Linked DNA regions of Homo sapiens. The protein of the gene in region 3 purifies or fractionates together with the protein of the main gene of each other region. This does not show direct contact. Each region holds a gene or a part of one and is shown on either strand. Other genes may lie near its edges.

What was found. The genes of interacting proteins can lie anywhere in the genome.
Region 1: the proteins of DNAJA4 (region 3) and TIPRL purify together in Homo sapiens (affinity purification with mass spectrometry, with the first as the bait; one large-scale study listed by BioGRID). This does not show direct contact.
Region 2: the proteins of DNAJA4 (region 3) and ACOX3 purify together in Homo sapiens (co-immunoprecipitation; one large-scale study listed by IntAct). This does not show direct contact.
Region 4: the proteins of DNAJA4 (region 3) and RADX purify together in Homo sapiens (affinity purification with mass spectrometry; one study listed by BioGRID and IntAct). This does not show direct contact.

What each region holds. Positions count from the first base shown.
Region 1 is NC_000001.11:168,195,962-168,199,285, reverse strand, and holds part of TIPRL (TIP41-like protein), read right to left. Parts: intron 2,740-3,324; coding exon 2,644-2,739; intron 368-2,643; coding exon 305-367; intron 1-304. UniProt on the Homo sapiens protein: May be a allosteric regulator of serine/threonine-protein phosphatase 2A (PP2A). Isoform 1 inhibits catalytic activity of the PP2A(D) core complex in vitro. The PP2A(C):TIPRL complex does not show phosphatase activity.
Region 2 is NC_000004.12:8,371,224-8,374,723, forward strand, and holds part of ACOX3 (peroxisomal acyl-coenzyme A oxidase 3), read right to left. Parts: intron 3,290-3,500; exon of another isoform or gene 2,845-3,289; intron 2,406-2,844; coding exon 2,338-2,405; intron 1-2,337. UniProt on the Homo sapiens protein: Oxidizes the CoA-esters of 2-methyl-branched fatty acids.
Region 3 is NC_000015.10:78,274,562-78,278,061, forward strand, and holds part of DNAJA4 (dnaJ homolog subfamily A member 4), read left to right. Parts: exon of another isoform or gene 1-539; intron 540-936; coding exon 937-1,167; intron 1,168-3,500.
Region 4 is NC_000023.11:106,639,478-106,642,977, reverse strand, and holds part of RADX (RPA-related protein RADX), read right to left. Parts: intron 3,452-3,500; coding exon 3,291-3,451; intron 3,165-3,290; exon of another isoform or gene 3,082-3,164; intron 2,427-3,081; coding exon 2,257-2,426; intron 1-2,256.

The DNA of each region.
Region 1 (3,324 bases), on a different chromosome or scaffold from region 3:
ACATCCATCACCAGCCAGCTATGTGACTCAGAGTAAGTCACACCTCTGGGTTTCAATTTCTCTAGAACAAAATGTGAAAATTAGATTAGATGAGGCTTAAGTACCTAGCAGCTCTAAATGTTCTTGTATTTGAGGTAAGGTCAGAAAAGTTATGCTCCCATAGAATTTATCCTATAGAGCCCCATTAGGTGAATGAATGGGTTTAGGGATGTAAACTTGGGTGGTTGGGGTCAGGGGTATATGCTACTTAAATTAAAATGAAACATTAAAATTAACTTCTAAAAACTGAAATTTAAGTACTTGCCATCAAACTAGAAATTTTGCTTTCTCGTGACGTATATTCTCGTAACATGTAGGTCTTGTCAGCCTGTATTTAAAAATAAACAGTTGCAATAAATTTAATTATACTGATTTACAAAATCCTTTGTATTAAAAACAGACTGCCTACATTTTAGGATAGGTTGTCAAAACAGCATGCAGTCTAAAGAGAACATCTTGTTCTACACTGAGATAACTCCTATTTAACTCAAATTGGATTATTATTTCCAATTTCTATACATTATAATGATGATACACATATGTAAACAGATTTTATAATTACCATGTAAGAGAAACATAGCAAAGATTTTACTTTGAAAGAATATGTATATAAATGAATAATGTATATAATGAATTTGTATAAATGAAATATGCAAGAGATTTTAAAATTACTTCAAGTTTGAAACATCTTTCCCTTAAGCTATCTTATCATTTACCTACGTAATTGTGCTACTTTTATGTTGCAAAACATGCTTTAAAATTTTTATTCTTTCCCATTCCATAAAGCTCTTACCAAATAGCTTACTTAAAATCACCTTTTTTGTACTTCAATTTTTCCCATTTAAGATTTTTGGTTAGGTTTTAGAACAGCAACTTATTATAATTTACTTCTTGAAACACTTTTCAATAAAAGAAAAGCCACAAAATTATATGCCTTTAAGGTTTCACTCTCTTGTATTAATAAAAACAGATTAATAGTCACTGTAGGAAAAAAATCAAATAATATAAAAGTATAAATCATCAGTGATCACAGCTTATAGGTAACACTATCTTTAATACTTAGAAATCTCTACAGAGAATCTTATGTAAGTAGATTCATACTTGCTTTTGAAAGTTCAACACTGAAATGAATATCTTTCAAAATTACTTAAATATCAATCTCTGCAACCAATTTTAATAATTATATATTTTATACCATATGGATATAAACAATTTAATTAATGGCCATTTAATGGGCATTAAGTTCCTACTTTCCTTCCTTTCTGCTATTATAAACAATACTACTGTGAATATTCATGTACGTATAACTCTGAGTAATTGCCCAATTAATATTAGTAGATTATTATATAAAAGAATCTTTTTAGGATAAATTCCTAAAATTCAATATTGTTTAATTAAAACAGTATTTTTAACATTTAGGCCAGGAGCGGTGTGGCTCACGCCTATAATCCCAGCACTTTGGGAGGCCGAGGCAATTGGATCACTTGAGGTCAGGAGTTCAAGACCGGCCTGGCCAACATGGTGAAACCCCATCACTCCATTAAAAACAACAACAACAAAATTGCCAGGTGTGGTGGTGGGCGCCTGTAATCCCAGCTACTAGGGAGGCTGAGACATGAGAATTGCTTGAACTCAGGAAGCAGAGGTTGCAGTGAGCCAAGATCGCGCCACTGCATTCCAGCCTGGGCAACAGAGCAAGACTCCATCCATCTCAAATAAATAAATAAAAATAAAATTTAGATTTCTCTTTCTGGGGAACAAAAATATAGCTTATGTTTAGTACTTTGCCACCACTTTTAAAAGAAAAAAGGTCTATCACTATAACCATGTTATTTCAAGAAAAAATCCCTAAGTGAAGGGTTTAGAAAGCATCAATCCAATCCTATCCTACTAGGTTCAAATTCCAATTCTGCCACCTACTAACTGTATAACTTAGGTATGTTTCTTTTTTTTTTTTTTCTTTGAGACAGGGTCTTGCTCTGTCACTGCAGCCTCAACCTTCACCAGCTCAAGCAATCCTCCCACCTCAGCCTCCCAAGTAGCAGCTAGGACTACAAGTCCGTGCCACCATGCCTGGCTAATTTTTTGTATTTTTAGTAGAGACAGGGTTTCACCATGTTGGCCAGGCTGGTCTCGAACTCCTGATCTCAGGTGATCTACCCACCTCGGCCTCCCAAAGTGCCGGGATTACAGGCGTGAGCTACGGCGCCCGGCCTTGGCCTGATTAATATATTAATGTACTTCCTGTATATTAATGTACATCAGGACATTACATAAACAACATATACTGTAAACAAAGGTAAGAGTTAAAGGACAGTTTTCTTAAACATGGATTAAGTACATACAAAATTGTCTCAAAAGACCCCTCCCCAATTAGGGAGTGTCTTTTAGAAAACATTTTGAGTCACCAGAACCTTTGTAAAAGGAAATGTAATGTTTTGATGATAGCCTGCAGTCAACAGTGAATGTGAAACACTCAGACTTAACAGTTAGAAAGACTGCCATATAATATAGATTGTTTAATTTCAAATTCTCAGATTGACAATTAAACAACACAAACAAGCCCAGTATCAATTAGTATATTCATTAAACAACAATAAATACCTCATGGTAAAGTCTCGTGTCATTCATTCTGATAAGCACCCCATCAATTCTCAAGAAAAACCGCAACAGCAGGAAAAAGCTAGAAGGCATTACTCTCTGGAAAAAAAAAAAAAGGTACATTAATATTTTAATAAAAATTAAACATTTTATTACTTTGCTGAAAGAAAAAATTTGAAAACAAAAAACAAAAAAACCCTGGAATAAGGCTGAATTCACAGTTTATAAAAATCTCTCAACTAGAAGCTCTTTGTCCTAGCTCCAACTAGCCTCAAAACCTTGTGCAAACTATTTAACATCATAGTTTCGGTTTCCTAAAATATTTTTTCTAGGTGAGGAGATATTGAGGTTTAAAAGACTTAAAAACATACCCAAGTAATGTAAAAATTATAATGTTTATTTCAAAAAATGGCAGGTACTGATAGTAAATGTCAACACCAATAAAACCAAAATGAAAGAACAACCTAGTTCTTTGTCACTACTCACCTATTCACTTTACATAAAACAAAGCAACAGACCTTACACAGAATGCTCTAATTCAGTGCAACCTGTAGGCACTATTACATATTGCTAAAGACCTGGTTTATCAGAACACTATAACACATTCTTAACATCTTTCATCTGTGGCACATCTACAAATTCCTCTGCTTTCCAAGTATAACTACTAATGATAGGCAGAATCAG
Region 2 (3,500 bases), on a different chromosome or scaffold from region 3:
TGTTTCTTCCCAACAAGGTAGAAAAGGCCCTTAAAAGTGACGACCCTGAAGCTCGTGAATTAGCAACTGCATTCAGAGGCTCGTTTCTAAGCCTTGGCTTATCTGGGCAACTGCTGTTCCAGTAAAGGAAAATATGTTCAGAAAACATGTAATAGAGAAGGCATTTATGAGCACTTGGAAAAGCCATAAGCATATGAAGCCTCCTCGGTTGGCGGTGGTTTTATTACTCTCCCATTCCACTGGACAAATTATTCTTCAATATGACACATGAAATTTATATGAGTGGACTCTCAAGAATTTTCTTAAGATGCAAAACAAAAATTATCCTTAAAATATGATGAAATGCCGTGGCTACACTGCATAGAACCCAGGAATGGGAGACACCGCTAATGATATGGATCAAAGGCAATCAGTCAGTACAGAGTAAGAAAGGCCACAATGGAGGAACTGAGTGCACCTCTGCGCTTCAGCGCCGCGCTCTGCAGGGCGTGGCCACCTGGTCCTGGTCCACGTGCCTCAGCACAGAGGCCGCAGACAAATGCCACTGCTCCCGGAGAGAAGCTCTCGGCAGAGCACAGGCGCTGAGCCCGACAAACGTGTTCCGTAAGGGTCCAGGTGGGAGATGTTACCGGCTTTGCGGGCCACGGTCTCTGGCAACTGCCTACTGTGCCGTGGAAGCACAAAGGCACCCACAGACGACACTCAGGTGAACGGCAGGATTGGACTGAGTTTGCTGGCCCTGGTCTAGTGGATGGCTGGCAACTTCTCCACCTGGCTGACCTTGGCCTCCCCAAGACAGTGGTATGGATGGGCACACACAGAGTGGCACACAACGGTCATCCAGCCTTGGCCATAGCCTCACTGGGAAATCAGTTGTGGCTGTCATTTTTTTGAGACGGGGTCTTGCTCTGTTGTCCAGGCTGGAGTGTGATGGTGCAATTACGGCTCACTGCAGCCTCGAACACCTGGGCTCAAGCCACCCTACCTCAGCCTCTTGAGCAGCTGGGACTACAGGCATGTGCCACCAAGCCTGGCTAATTTTTTAAAATTATTTTTTGTAGAGATGAAGTCTCACTACGTTGCCCAGGCTGGTCTCGAACTCCTGGCCTCCAGTGATCCTCCTGCCTTGGCCTCCCAAAGTGCTGGGATTACAGGAATGAGCCACCACACCCGGACACTTTTTATCAACAACACCTCCCCGCTATGCCCCCCTCTCTGGCGAGGAGACCCCCGTGCTTTCCTTGGTGCACCTGCATACTCTGAAGGCCTCCATGGGGTCAACACTGCCCCAAGGGGGTAAAATTTGGCTCTTGGAGGAGCCAAGGAAAACCCCTCCCTGTGGCCAGTTCGATGTTAAGACGAGTAAATGTGGCCACATACGTGCGCCACAATCAGACACGCCCCTCTCTGGAACCGCAGGCTCAGGGAAGGGCTTTATACAACGAATCCCGAGAGAGGCTCAGAGCCAGTCACAGGGACGTTCCACTGGTCCCAGATCAAGTGTGAAAGCAGTGACAGGGGAGATGAAAGGCCACGTCTGCAGTCACCTGAGACATTGTGCTAAAATGCAGCAGCACTCAGTCCAGTTCCTAGCAGCAAAAGTGGAATGACGTCTCCACGGACACAGTGGCCCTGCCCACCGCAGCAGCACCAGCACCAGCACAAGTGGCTCCTCAAAATCAGTGCAATGAAAGGAAATCGGAGACCCTCACTCACACAGCCGCCTTCCCCCAACCCAGCGGCTGCCGTGCTAAACAGCACAGCACTGCAGCTTCTGTCCCCGGATGGAAGAGAGATGCCGGATCAGAATGTGGGGTTGGGGCCCTCTGATTTCCTGGGTGACATAGGTAAAAGAATATAATAAACAAGGAAACTGCCAGGAAACAAATTTAAATTGGAGGCTGAGTCCCCCGAATGCTCAGAGAATTCTCAAAGTAGCTGCAAAAGGTGTGTGAGAGGGCCTGGGTGTGTGCAGATCTGGAGACGCCCCGACAGGTTTCTTTTGCAAAAATTTCTGATGTAGCCATATTTTCTTGTAATCCTACAGTTTTTACTAAACACTGAACACACGTGAATGTTTGGGTTGCAAAGGCGGTGTGTGTCGGCTCATGGGTGACGCTAAGGCGGTGTGTGTCAGCTCTGGGTGATGCTAAGGGGGTGCGTGTCGGTCTGGGTAAGGGGGTGCGTGTAGGCTCTGGGTGACGCTAAGGGGGTGCGTGTCAGTCTGGGTGATACTAAGGCGGTGCGTGTCGGTCTGGGTGATGCTAAGGGGATGCGTGTCGCTCTGGGCGGTTGTGTAACATGGATGTAGAGAACGCGACAGCACCCACGGCTCACCTGGGAACACAAAGCCAGGACGGCGCTCTCCAACACTTCTCCCGCCTGCTCACCGGAGAAGTATCCTCCTGCAAGCACAGCCTCGGTCACATGGGGGCTGGGTCCAGTCCAAAACCACCCCCAATACCAACATGCCCTGAGTGCACTTTCCAAATCGGCCATATAGGAGGCCTGTTTTGGGTGAACACATCAGTGTCATTGCTGTCCCCAGCCCAGATGTGACCCAAGGAATGTGCTGCTCAGGGGCCGAGTTCTGAGACCCTTTTCCCACTCAGGCATTGATGGTCTCTGGCCCGCGGCAGCGAGGGAGGCAAGGTCCCAGGCTCAGAGGTGACAGGTGGCCGCTGGGCTCATACCTGCTGGGGTTCAGGGAGGCTGGGCGGGTTCCTTCCTCGGGAGAAAGTGAGGAAGGGGCTCCTGGGCAGAGTGAAGCAGGGGTGCATGGCAGGGGGCGCAGGGGCGAGGGGGTGCCTGGGACCACCCAGGGGAGTTGGGGGCGGTGGGCACCTGCAGGGACTCAGAGGCCGCAGGGGGACTTGGTCCTTGGTGTCACCTCCAGCCGCTGTGGTTTCTGGCAGGGCCCTAAGAGGTCCAAGGCTGTGGCCTTGTGCGTTCGGGAGCACATCTGTGGTGGGATCTGCGTTTGCTGTGATTTCCGCTGGAGAGAACTGTGTCTCATCACTTAGGGTTTTTCTCAGGCAGCAGTGGGGCTCCTGCCCTGTGCCCGCCCTCTCTGGCAGACACTTGTGTCCCTTCCTTGGTGCACCTGAGCACTGTCAAGGCCTCCACGGGGTCAGCACCACCCTCCAGGGGGTAAACGCTGGCTCTTGGGGTGGGGAGGATCTTATTCTTCACAAGCCCAGAGACACAGGACATGAATGGATATGCAGTGTATCCTAGTACCAAAGATGCATGGGTGCCAGCCATTGGGAAAAACCACCTAAAAAGCTTCCTGGGGGGCAAAGACGAACAAAAAGTTGACAAACTTTGGTTTAGCCTATTCCCACCAATCCTCCAGGAATCAGCCCCAGCACCCCCTCCTCCAGGAAGCCTTCCAGTATTCCCAAGTCTAGGCACTCCTGGCTCGTGTCTGTCTGTGCCTTATGGGACCTAGTGGGTGGGCTTCTGCTCTCTGCAGAGCCCGGCAGGCTGCCTGGCATGAG
Region 3 (3,500 bases):
TCCCAGTCTTCTCTTCACCCTTCCTGGCCTTATTTCCATTCCATGTCACCTGCCAAAGTGTTCTTGCTGAGGTTTACTTCCTTGAGATCACAGACAGCCTCTTTATGAGGTTTTCTAACGCTCTGAAAGTCTTACCTGGCCTTGGTTTGGGTTAGTTGCCATCTCCTGACATTCTCAAGCCATTCCTCTAGAATCTTTCGGAGTGTCTTCCTGGTCGCTTCTGATGCTCATTGGCCATAAGGGCTTGTGTAAGTGTTTGTGGCTGCATGTTCCCTTTCTCCACATTTCCCCATGTGCTGCATCAGATTCCCCCAAATACAGCACCTTCTCCTGCTATTCATTTTGCCTGATGCCATCATTTTAAGGCCTTTTTCCATTTTAGCTGTCCTCCAAGTATTCCGATGATTCTGTGGCTTTCCAATCCAGTAAATATATCCTAGATCAGAGATGAGACCAAAAGTAAAAGAATCAACAGCCAAACCGACACAGGTGTTATTAAAGGACTTACTGTTTAAACATGCCTAAACCCTGTGCCTTGAGTGTGCAAGCTGACTTATTAGAAAAGGACAGGGCTGGCTGACCTGTCCCTATCAGTCCCAAGTCATGCACCCTGTGCCCCGGGAAGTGGGCGGTGACCCTATGCTGGTGGTGTGGCATCACAGGCCCTGGGCAGGGAGTGCTGTGTAAACCTGGGATGTAGAGCCGCATTCCCCCACTCCCTGTGCATGCTGGGCTTGGCCCCACATTATGCCAAGGGAAGCGGGACCTCTTCTGTCATTGGCCATCCTAGCCACCCCTCCCTGCCTTGTGCCTGCATGAGGTTGGGAGACTTGATGAATAAAGAATCCCTGAAGGACTCTGTTCCTTCTTCAAAAGCTTTAAGGAAGCATGGTTTGTATGAGAAATGGCTAATCAGAAAGGGATGATGTTTCATAGGTATGAAAGATGGGCAAAAGATACTATTTCATGGAGAAGGAGATCAGGAGCCTGAGCTGGAGCCTGGTGATGTCATAATTGTGCTTGATCAGAAGGATCATAGTGTCTTTCAGAGACGAGGCCATGACTTGATCATGAAAATGAAAATTCAGCTTTCTGAAGCTCTTTGTGGCTTCAAGAAGACGATAAAAACATTGGACAATCGAATTCTTGTTATTACATCCAAAGCAGGTAATGTTTCAAAGTGTGTTTCCATTGATGTTCTGTATGTTTGGCATAATAATTCTGGCAAGTTAGCCTGATTTTTTTATTGCTACATAATATTTTACATATTGATGGGGTGCATGTGATACTTTGTCCCTTGCATAAAATGGGTAATGATCAAGCCACGTGTTTAGGGCATCTGTCGCCTTGAGTATTTATTTCTTTGTGTTGGGAATAGTTCCCCTGATTTCACATTTAAGGTCAAATTCTGTTACACAAATTAGTATGATGTGATTTTCTCTAAATTTAAAACTGTCCCTAATAACTCTGGATAATTTATAAAGTTCTTGTATATTCTCCTAGAAAAAATATTCAGTTGGGGGGAAAGTCTCAAATAAGAATCTTGGGGCTCTGAATTTTAGATGAATTCTGGCAATTAAACTTAAGTTTTTAAAAATTTATTTTTGTATAAGAAAACAGCTTAATAGGTGGTGTTTTTCTATCAAGTGGTGATTTGTGCTGATTCATCCACATGTTCCTGTAGCCTCTGTTGTTCATTACATGAGTTACATTTTAAAATAGAATTTTCCTGTAAGAAAGACTTTGCCTATCAGTTTATCCTTGGAGGTTTCCACAGGAATTGCTGGTCTGCACACACCCATGGGAGCCAGAGGGAGATGCCTCTAGGCCGAAAGGGTTCCTGAGGCCTGAGCTCAGCCCCCAACCCCCCTGTAGACACCAGGGCACTCATCTCCCAGGAGGGTTGGTGTGTTCACTGTAGTTGAGGGTTTGTGTGGGCACCAGAGCACCTGCCTAGAAGGGGCTGAGAAGGGAGAGAGGCCAGGCCAGGGACCTTGACTTGAAGCTGCTTCTGAATAGCACTAAGGTCAGCTGTGCATAGCAAAGAATGTCTGGATGGGTGTGGTGGCGGCTACGCCACCGAAGCAGCCTGGGCCCCAGCACCAGCCATTTGCAGTGTTGCTGTAGTCCCCTCACTGGCCGTGGGGCTGGGATTACCTTTTTCTATGGCCATTTGAGGTTTGGTGCAAAAGGGGTAGGTTCAGGGCAGGCAGGGAGGTAACCACCAATAAGCCTGCCCCCAGGGCAGTGGCAGCTGGAGATAAGACTCAAGTCTGGTGGGGTGACTGAGGCCTGGACTTCTGTTCCCTCCGTGTCCCTCTCCCCCTTCCCCTCCTTGTCTGCTTTTCTCTTCCCAGCCTTGTGCTCTTTTTCTCTTTCCTCTCTTGGATTCTTTCAGGTTCCTCCTTTCCTGGGGATAGTAGGAAGCAGAATTATATATCCAAGCCTTGATCGGTTTGTGGAGTTTTAAAATAAACTTATTTGGAAACAATTTCAAGCTTACAAGAAGTTGTAAATATAAAAATAGTCCGAGGCCCATCCATATATGATTTGTCTGATGTTAACATTTTACCCCATTTGGTTTGTCATTTGATCTGTGTCTGTTTTTATTTATTTTTAAAATTTGTTCATTTATTTTTTGAGACAGGGGTCTTGCTCTGTCGCCCAGGCTGGAGTGCAGTGGCGTGATCTCAGCTCGCTGTAACCTCCACCTCAGCCTCCCGAGTAGCTGGGACAGCCACATGCCACCACGCCCATCTAATGTTTGTACTTTTTGTAGAGACGGGGTTTCGCCATGTTGCCCAGACTTGTGTGTGTTTTTATACATATACTTAATCCAGGATTGGGGGAAGCACTGCAGTATAATGCAAAATTTGCATGAAAATTTAAAATAAAACACCTTCCCTTAGGCTTCCATAGACCTCCCAAGGCACCCATTTCCTCCCTCAAGGAGGAGTTTGAGGATCACAGTTTACACGAAGCTCCAGACCACTGGTTGTGAGCTCAACACCCTGGCATTGTGTCCAAGATGCCCTTACGTGGTCACAGCCCAGATCCTAGCCCTCCTGAGCCGGGGCTGGGAAGCATCTGTGTGTAACTTCTTTGGGAAAGCCTGTCCTGTCCAGGGGTGGACTATTTGAGGTCCTGGGCCCCACCAAGAGCCAGCGTTCCTTGCTGTCTCAGCTGACCCCAGCCTAGGGAGCCGGGAGCCAAATGGAGTGAGGGTGGTGGAGAAAGAGCCCCAGAGGGAAGGAAGTGGCAAATCCCAAGAAATCCATTTCCTTCTTTATTATAAGGAAGGGTGGAGCATCCAGGAAACCTGCCGTTGGAGAGTTCTTTGGGGATTTGTTTGTCCTTTTTGTTTTGTTTTTGTTTTTACTTTGTTCTCTTTTGCACCCTCTCTTTTCTTCACCCCTCTTTTGTGTTGGCTTATTTCTTGTTTCTCCATTTTCTCTTCTCCCTCTTCTTCCTCTTTTCTGCTGTTGAAATGCCTTCTTCCC
Region 4 (3,500 bases), on a different chromosome or scaffold from region 3:
AAGCCGTGGATAGATACCATTTTACCTCAGTTAAAACGGCTTAAATCCAAAATACAGGCAATAACAAATGCTGGTGATGATGTGGAGAAAAGGAACTCTGTACGTTGTTGGTGGGAATGTAAATTAGTACAACCACTATGGAGAACAGTTTGGAGGTTCCTCAAAGAAACTGAAAATTGAAATACAATGTGATCCAGCAATTCCACTGCTGGGTATACACCCAGGAGAAAGGAAATCAGTATACCAAAGAGATATCTGCACTCCTATGTTGCTGCAGCACTGTTTATAATAGCTAAGATTTGGAAGCAACCTACATGTCCATCAACAGATGAGTGGATAAAGAAAATGTGATACATATACCCAATGGAGTACTATTTAGCCATAAAAATGAGATCCAGTGATTTGCAACAACATGGATGGAACTGGAGATCATTATGTTAAGTGAAATAAGCCAAGCATAGAAAGATAAACATTCCATGTTCTCACCTATTTGTGGGATCTAAAAATCAAACAAGTGAACTCATAAAGGTAGAGTTTAGAAGGACGGTTACCAGAAGCTGGGAAGGGTAGCAGGGGGGTGCGGGGAAGTGAAGACGTTTAACGGGTACAAATAAATAGCTAGAAAGAATGAATAAGACCTACTACTTGATAGCACATCAGAGTGACTATAGTCCATAATAACTTAATTGTACATTTAAATGTAACTAAAAGAGTGTAATTTGATTGTAATACAAAGGATAAATGCTTGATGGGATGGATACCCCATTCTCCATGACATTCTTATTTCACATTGTATGCTTGTATCAAAACATCTCATGTACCCCCATAAATATATATATACCTACTAAATGTACCCACAAAAATTAAAAGTTAAACAATTTTAAAAAATAAATTAAAAATTTTACCTATTACTTATTCACAACCAAAAACTGCTGTGCACCCGGGCACACTCTAAAAGATTGGAATTTTTAAAATCTTAAAATCTAAAGTGATTCTGCACTCTGCTTTATGAGTGTTTGGGCTTTCCTGACACTTTAAAGAAACCAAAACTTCCAATCATGTACAATTCATAATGTATGAATGTTTTGTAGTAAAGACCCATGCTTAAACAACTGGTAAGCAAATGTAAGCTATAATGTTCTTGTTGTTCAGGAAAATGGAAGAATGACCTTGGGAGTGAGACTACCTCCTTGGTTTCAGAGGACAAGTGCTCCCTTTTCAATTCCAGAGGGTGGGTTCATTTCCTTGGTTCCAGAGTGTGGGGCCATCACCCAGGATTGTAGAAGTGGGGATGCTACCCCAGTGAGCCCAGAGGACATAAGACTGTGGCGAAGAGAATAATTCTGAAGCCTTAAAATCTAATGCAATTTATTTGCCTTGCTAGGTTTTGGAGTTGCTTGTGACCCATGATCCCCCTTTTCTTTCCAATTTCTCTCTTTCAGAATGGGAGTGTCTATCCTATACCTATCTCATCACTGTATTCTGGACAGATAACTTGTTTGATTTTATAGGTATACAGATGCAGAAGAATTTTGCCCCAGGATAAATCACCATGATCATGGATGGATGAATTACATCCATATGAAATTTAGATGAGATTTTGGATTAGAATTGATGGTGCTATGGGATAAGACTTTTGGGGATGTTGTGATGAGGTGAACCTATTTTGCATATGAGAAGGACAGGAATTTTGTGGGACCAGAGGGCAGACTTATGGGTTAAATTGTGTCCCCACAAAATTCATATGATGAAGTCCTAACCCTCAGGACTTCTGAATATGACCTTATTTGGAAATAGGGTCATAGCAGATGTTACTGATAAAGATGACGTCATACTGGATTAGGGTGGTCCCCTAATCCAATATGAGTGGTATCCTTATGAAAAAGGTGAAATTTGGACACAGACATTACACAGAGAGAACTCCATGTGAATATGAAGGCAGAGATTGGGGTGATGCTTCTACAAGTTAAGGAATGCCAAAGATTGCCAGCACCCTAAGAGGCTAGGAGAGAGGCATTGAACAGATTCTCTCTCGCAGCCCTGAGGGAACCAATGCTGTTGACACCTTGATCTTGAACTCTATCCTCCAGAACTCTGAGACAACAAATTTCAGTGTTTAAGTCACTCAGTTGTGGTATTTTGTTATGGGGGCCCTAACAAATTAATACAGCTTCTACGATAATTGCTTATTTTACAGGGTAGAGATAACCCAAAAGAAAAAATATACTTTACATATACTTAATACAAATGACTTACGGATTAGCGTGTGGGCCTTGAAGAATTCTTATTTTATTGCTCAGACTTAAATTTGTAGATGTAGTTTGGAAATACTGAGAATTCACAGGCTCATCATCTTGATGCCGTTTACCATTTCTTTCTTGAATTTCTACTCTAGCTGCTTGAGAGGTCGAGGGTCTGTTAGCATTCTAAAACCAATAATTTAGAGAAAACACTTTAGGCTAATTCACAATTATTAATCTCATAAAAGACTACAATTTTAGTGTATTCATTTTTCATAATCAACAGTTCTGGCAAAACTTCAATCATAACAGTGCTTTTATGAAAATGATTGAATCTAATCCATCTGCTATTAAAATATTTTTTAAAAGGAAGACAAACAAAAGTCCTTCTTATACTACTATCTGAAAAGCTGGATTAAACACTTATTTCCATATAAATAGTAGTAGTCCTGGACGTAGTGTTTAAAAAGATAAACTCATGGGAAAAATTAACTTGTCTTGATTGTGCCAATATTCCAGAACTGGCATCTTCTATAATACTAAACTATTTATTCTAGAAGAGTTATAGAACCTGGGTAAGACTACTATGCCAGATATAGAGAAAACTTCCTATGAAAGCTTTCCTGTAGTACTGGCCTGGACAAAAGGTAGGAAATTAATATAGTCATAGATACCACCTAGAAATTTAAAACACCCACAATAGCCTCAAATTACACAGAATGCAAAAACAGGATACCAAGTTTTGAGGGCCTTGGGAAATGTCAAGAGGCTATAATCATTATTGGCCTAGTCTGCCCCCAAATAAATGACACAAAAAGGAAACAAACAAAAAAGTAAAAATATTAGGTTGGTGCAAAAGGAATTGCGGTTTTTGCCATTACTTTTATAGGCAAAAACCACAATGCCTTTTGCACCAACCTAATGTTTTCTCTTAGGCTTACATTATTAAGAGTCAATACACGTGAGTTCTGAATAAAATGTAAAAGGTACCAATTGCAATCATAATCACAGTGCTTTCAGAGAAATACTATTAATTCTCTGGCACCATACCCGAAGTGTTTCTGATGCTGAGGCACTTTCAGTCGCACTGCTATGGGGGATATACTTTATAGCAGTAATTATCCCCTGAATTGCAATGCGCTTTTGTTCCCTATACTGCAAGTCTTCAATCTCCTTCCTGACTTCACTTATAGCTGTCAAGAGCGACTCAACTGCAAAAAAGTCCAAGAAAATTGTAAGTTTTAAAGAACTGAAATGATA